Linked DNA regions of Homo sapiens: region 1 is linked to region 2. A link means that fine-mapping ties the variant in region 2 to the expression of a gene that starts in the linked region. Tissue or cell type: whole blood. Region 2 holds a variant in brackets; the other region holds the start of a gene. All regions are shown on one strand. Distances are between the middles of the regions.

Evidence for each region. PIP is the estimated chance that this variant, and not a neighbour inherited with it, causes the effect.
Region 1: it holds the start of GPRIN1, and the variant in region 2 is fine-mapped to the expression of GPRIN1 in whole blood (INTERVAL, PIP 0.93).

The regions. Positions count from the first base shown.
Region 1 is chr5:176,608,729-176,611,228 of GRCh38, reverse strand. It overlaps GPRIN1 (G protein regulated inducer of neurite outgrowth 1), which reads left to right and starts at 1,073. Exons shown (of 2, transcript NM_052899.3): 1 at 1,073-1,230. RefSeq lists silencers at 743-1,372, 1,433-1,492.
Region 2 is chr5:176,587,063-176,589,816 of GRCh38, reverse strand. CDHR2 (cadherin related family member 2) reads right to left here. Exons shown (of 32, transcript NM_017675.6): 22 at 635-786; 23 at 379-487; 24 at 201-289. Among named protein-coding and RNA genes, the nearest start is that of GPRIN1, 22 kb to the left of the region's middle. The variant ACT/T (reference allele first, on the strand shown) is at 1,395.

The sequences.
Region 1 (2,500 bases), 22 kb before region 2:
CAAACAAGTTACTTATCTGCTTCTCTTTTCTTATCTGAAAAATGGAGATATAATACATTAATATTAACTTGCTCCTAAGCGATTGGAAATTGAAATTAGATAAAACCTGTAAACAGAATCTTAGCGCCGTGTCTGGCCCTACATAAGCATCATTGCCAATGGTTGTTACCATTGATTAATAGATGGTGGTGGCTTCATAGTACCGGTGCGAGAGGGTTTTGTCACATCTAGAGCAATTACGGAATTATTTTTTCTCCTCTGGGAAGTCAAGGGGAAGGGAACTCCTTCTCTGCAGGGAAATGTGGAGGGGGTGGGCAGCGAGTCTCTGTGTCCTTGGTGATTCAGATACCACTGGAAACCCCTGAACACCTACTTTGCCCTTCCAAGACCACCGTGAGGTGCATAATGTTAGTCCCGTTTTACAGATCGAGAAACTGAAGTGCAGAGAGGTGAAATGATTTGCTCGAGGGTATCCAGGGGGAGGGGGGAGGGCGGGCGGGCCCCCGGGGAGGCCGCAGCCAGGGACTGGAAGGCATCTCTCCCGCACCACTACCTCCGGCGTCCCCGCCACTCGCTGGAGCGTGGGCAGCGGCGAGACAAAGGGCCGGGGGCGGGGAAGAGGAGGCCGGAAGTGCGGCCGGGGGTGGGGGGGGCGGAGGCGGGAAATTTCCTCGCTGGCGGAGCCGGGAGATCGCGCCGACCTGGGTCCCCATCCAGGCGCCTCGAGTCCTCAGGCCGGCGACTGCCCCCTCTGAGCCCCAGTTCCCTCCTTGGTCAAGCCAGGCGAGGGCTTTCGAGGGGCTGGTCTAAGATCTGCTAGACGGCGCGCCCCGCCCTCAGCAAGCTCGCAGCAAAGGGGCAGCCTCTCCGGCCCTCAGTCTCCCTGTCTGTGAAGTGGGAACCCGCTCGAGGACGGCGCGGAACCCGGGAGCCCAGCGGCCGCAGTTAGGGTTGGCCAGCGAGGGGCGCCCCTCCCTCGCTCCCTCCGGCCGCGGTTTCCCCGCGGTCACCGCCCCCTCGCGGTTCCGAGGCGGCCGGGCGGCTACTGCGCATGCCCGGGGCGGGGCGCGGGGCGGGAGCGCGGAGCCGGCGCTGGGGACGGCGGCGCCGAGTCTGCGGGTCCTCCCGCCAGCCCGGCCGGAGGCAGCCGAGGCCGCTCGGGCGGCGGCGGCGGCGGCGGCGGGAGCCGGAGCGCATCTCGCCCAGGAGCCGGAGCAGCGGCACTGCCTGGTAAGCGCCGCGCCCACACCCGCTGTCTTTCCGGGCGGGCGGCGGCAGCCCCTTCATCCGCTCGCTGCCGCCCCGGAGCCGCTGTCCAGGGTCCTCGAAGCCCCCCGGCGGCGGGGCTCGGACACCTCGCGCGGCATGAGCCCGGGTGTGTGCGCGCGGCTGGGGGCGGTGGGTGTCTGTTTCCAGGCTCCTCGCCGGGGCGGGGCGGGGCGGGGCGGGGCGGGGGCGGGTCCCGCAGCCCTGGGCCGAACATCAGAGGGGCCCGGCGGGCCAGGCTGACCTGGCTGTGGGGTCGGCCCCGCGCCCGGCCTTGCCGCCGCCCGCTGGCTTTGTTCGGCATGGCCGCGCGGGAGGGGGTGCTTCCCGCCACTGGGGGGAGGGCGTCCTCCCGCGTTGATTCATCTTCCCCGGAGCGAGCTCAACGCTCCACTGGCTCCACTCGCACTACTGAGCACACTCGCCGTCACACAACCAGTGTGGCACACACTCCGGGGCGCGATCACACAACACCGCGTTCACGCACGGGCGCCTCATTTCCTCGAGTGAGGCCACAGGTCTACCGCACACACACAATGGCTGTTGGTCATTCCATTAGACTCATACACACGGCCACCTGTCACCCAGGGTACTGGGTGGGAGCCTTGCGTACACACCCAGGCACAGCTACGCACTCAAACCAGCCATCGCGGATCACAGCATGGACATCAACTCAACAATACTCCCTGATCACAACACACTCGGGGCCACCCTGCCCTGGCCTGCTCACCCCTGCTCATGGGGTCCCTTGCGTACCCAGATACCCTGGAGTAGACTGCCACCCTTGTGCACACACTCCCTCTTACACACACACTCTGTCTCTTAGCGTGCTGCCCACTCCCACCCACACTGGCCCACGTTTGCACGTCCATGAACGTCCATTCTTGCCCTCCTATGTATGTATGTATGCATGGTCTGAGGGCCGTTTCTGGAAGCAGGTCTGGCTAACACCTTTAGATTCCTTCTCCCCCCACACCCCCGAGCAGGAGACTTCGCTGCTCTGAGGGCACTACGAGAGAAGGGGACGAGGGGCAGCAGACTGAGATTCTCAGACACACTCAGATGCCTGACGAAGTCCCTCAAGCCTTTGTTGGTCTTGTCAGCACAGAAGAGGTATTTGCAGGTGCTTGGCAGTTCTGGCCCTGTTTATGGGTGTAAGGATAGCTCCATGCTGGAAAGAAATCCTAGAGGGAAAGGAATGGCTGGCCAGGTCTCTGTGGCCTGAATGGGCAGC
Region 2 (2,754 bases):
TCCCTCTGCCCTTGGCTGGGTATGGGCTTCTGGGGACATGCAAGAACGTCGTGCAGGTGAAAGTACAGGGTTGAAGACAGGGACAAGGTCAAATGTGGGTCAGGAACAGGATTGAGAGACATCCCATCCAGGTTTTGTCGGGGACCAGGCTCCTACACCCTGTTCTTCCTACCCCTCCCTCCGGGGCTCCCCAGACCTACGCATTAATCGCCTGTCTGTTGGCGCCCACCTCCTCCTTCGGTGTGGAGAACTGCAGCCGCGAGCGGTAACTCTGGTCCACGGTGAAGAGCTGGGAAGGGGGTGTGCAGGAGATGAGGCACCAGGGACCCTGGGGGCTGGCAGAGGGCGTTGGGGGCTGGAGGTGGGACCAGCACTCACATTCAGGGTGGTGGTGGCTTCCAGGAAAGGACCCAAGGAAGGTCTGTCCCTGGCCTGGACTGTCACTTGGTAGGTGCCTTGGAGAGTGGAGTCGAGGCTGGTCACCGGCCTGCGGAAGGCGGGAGGCGCAGGTCAGTCTTGGAACCCAAGCTGAATCCTCAGGACCCTTGTAACCTCCAGGATGGGGGACTTGCTGCCTGAAAGCTCCTATCGGGCCCCTCCCCGCAACCTCCCTCCCGGGGCCGCCCGCAGTTACTGAATGCTCCCAGCGAACACGTCGGCCTCGGAGGAGGTGAAGATCGAGAAGACACCCTGGAAAGGGATGGTGGCCCCGTCCTTAGAGATGAAGTCTACTCGGAGGATGGAGAACAGGATGACGCCATTGTTCCCTGAATCATCGTCTCTGGCCTGGGAGCAAGAGTGGACAATATCTGGGGGCCCAGCCAGGCCAGGCATCCCTCCACCCCAGCAGGGATCAGAGGCAAGGGTGGCCTGGGAGGCTGGCCCTCACCGTCTCTATCCGCCATCCCCACGCTGCCCCGAATAAGCAAATGGTTTCAAAAAACAGTGTGTCTGCTCTGCAAATCCAGATTTGGACAAGAACCTGCCCCTGTTCCCCAACTCCAAACAGATCACTGCCCTAAGTCCCTCACATGTGGAAATCCTGCCCTGCTCCCCCTACACCCCTCCACTGCCATACTCTCTCTCTCTCTCACACACACACACTCACACACACAGTCTCTCTCACATACACACCCTCTCACACACACACACTCTCACACACTGTCCCACTCACACTCAGTCTCACCCTAACACACACTTACACACATATGCACACACACTCATACACACCCTCACACACACTCTCACACACTGTCCCACTCACACATACACTCACTCACCCTAACACACTCACACACATGCACACACTCATACACACCCTCACACACTTATCCTCTCACACTCACATACACTCACACACCCTCTCACACTCACACACTTATCCTGACACACAC[ACT/T]CACACCCTCACTCTCTCATGCACTCACCACACACTCAATTCACACACACTCACACAAATACACTCAATTCACACACATTCACACACTTGCACAGTCACACACATACACACCCACAATCACCTACATACCCACACACTGTCACACACATTCACATACACTCACTCACCCTTATACACACCCTCAGGCACACACATTCACACTTAGACACACACACACTGGCGTGCACACACACAGCGATGCTCAGATTTCCTAAGCACCTCCCCTGGGATCCCTCATTTCCGTGCGGGGAGTACCAATTCCCCTAGTAGACCATGAAGCTGGTTGGGGAGGGGACACAAGCATTTTTATTCATTCTAGTGCCTTTTAGAGAAAAATTTAACCAGCACACAGAGCTTCGAGTTCACCAACGTTACTGTTAAGGATAGGCCAACACCAGTGCTTAGGTCTTAAAAAGGAATCTATTTAAAGAAAATTGCCGTGGCTAAACTCTTGACATTAGAACCAAATTGGCAGAAGATTGGGAAGCTGTCTTAAGACTTGAAAGTCACACAGTCACTGTCTCTAGCATGAACGTCAACCTAGAGAGGGAGAATTACTATCCCCATTTTACAAGAGGAAGCTGAGGCTCCGAGAGACCCTGTCCTTACACTCGGCTCTAAGTGGGGAAGGCCAGCCCTGTCCATCTCTTGTACCCATGTCCTTTCCAAAGCATAGGGAATGGCACCCACATGCCACCTTCTGGGAACTGCTAGCTTCTTGTTGAACAGGGAAACGGAGTCCCAGAGAGGGTAGGCAGCTCTCCAGGTCAGTAAGAAGCCCAGCCAGGCCCAGCCCTCGGTGGTGTGGGAAGCCTCATCCCCACACGGCATGGCCACCACCCCTAATAAACTTGCCACATCCAACACCATAAACAGCTGAAAGCCTTTTTATGACTTGGCTCCAATAATTTATTTATTTATTTATTTTTTTTTGAGGCAGAGTTTCACTCTTGTCGCCCAGGCTGGAGTGCAATGGCGTGATCTCGACTCACCGCAACCTCCGCCTCTCGAGTTCAAGTGACTCTCCTGCCTCAGCCTCCCAAGTAGCTGGGATTACAGGCATGCACCACCACACCCAGCTAATTTTGTATTTTTTAGTAGAGATGGGGTTTCTGCATGTTGGTCAGGCTGGTCGCAGACTCCCGACCTCAGGTGATCCACCTGCCTTGGCCTCCCAAAGTGCTGGGATTACAGGCTTGAGCCACCGTGCCCAGCTGGCTCTGAGAATTATTTAATGACAAGGCACTGGCTTAATTTACAATTAGCTATGAGTTCTCTGTATTACTCAAGAATTCTGGTATAGTAAGAAATATCTGGAC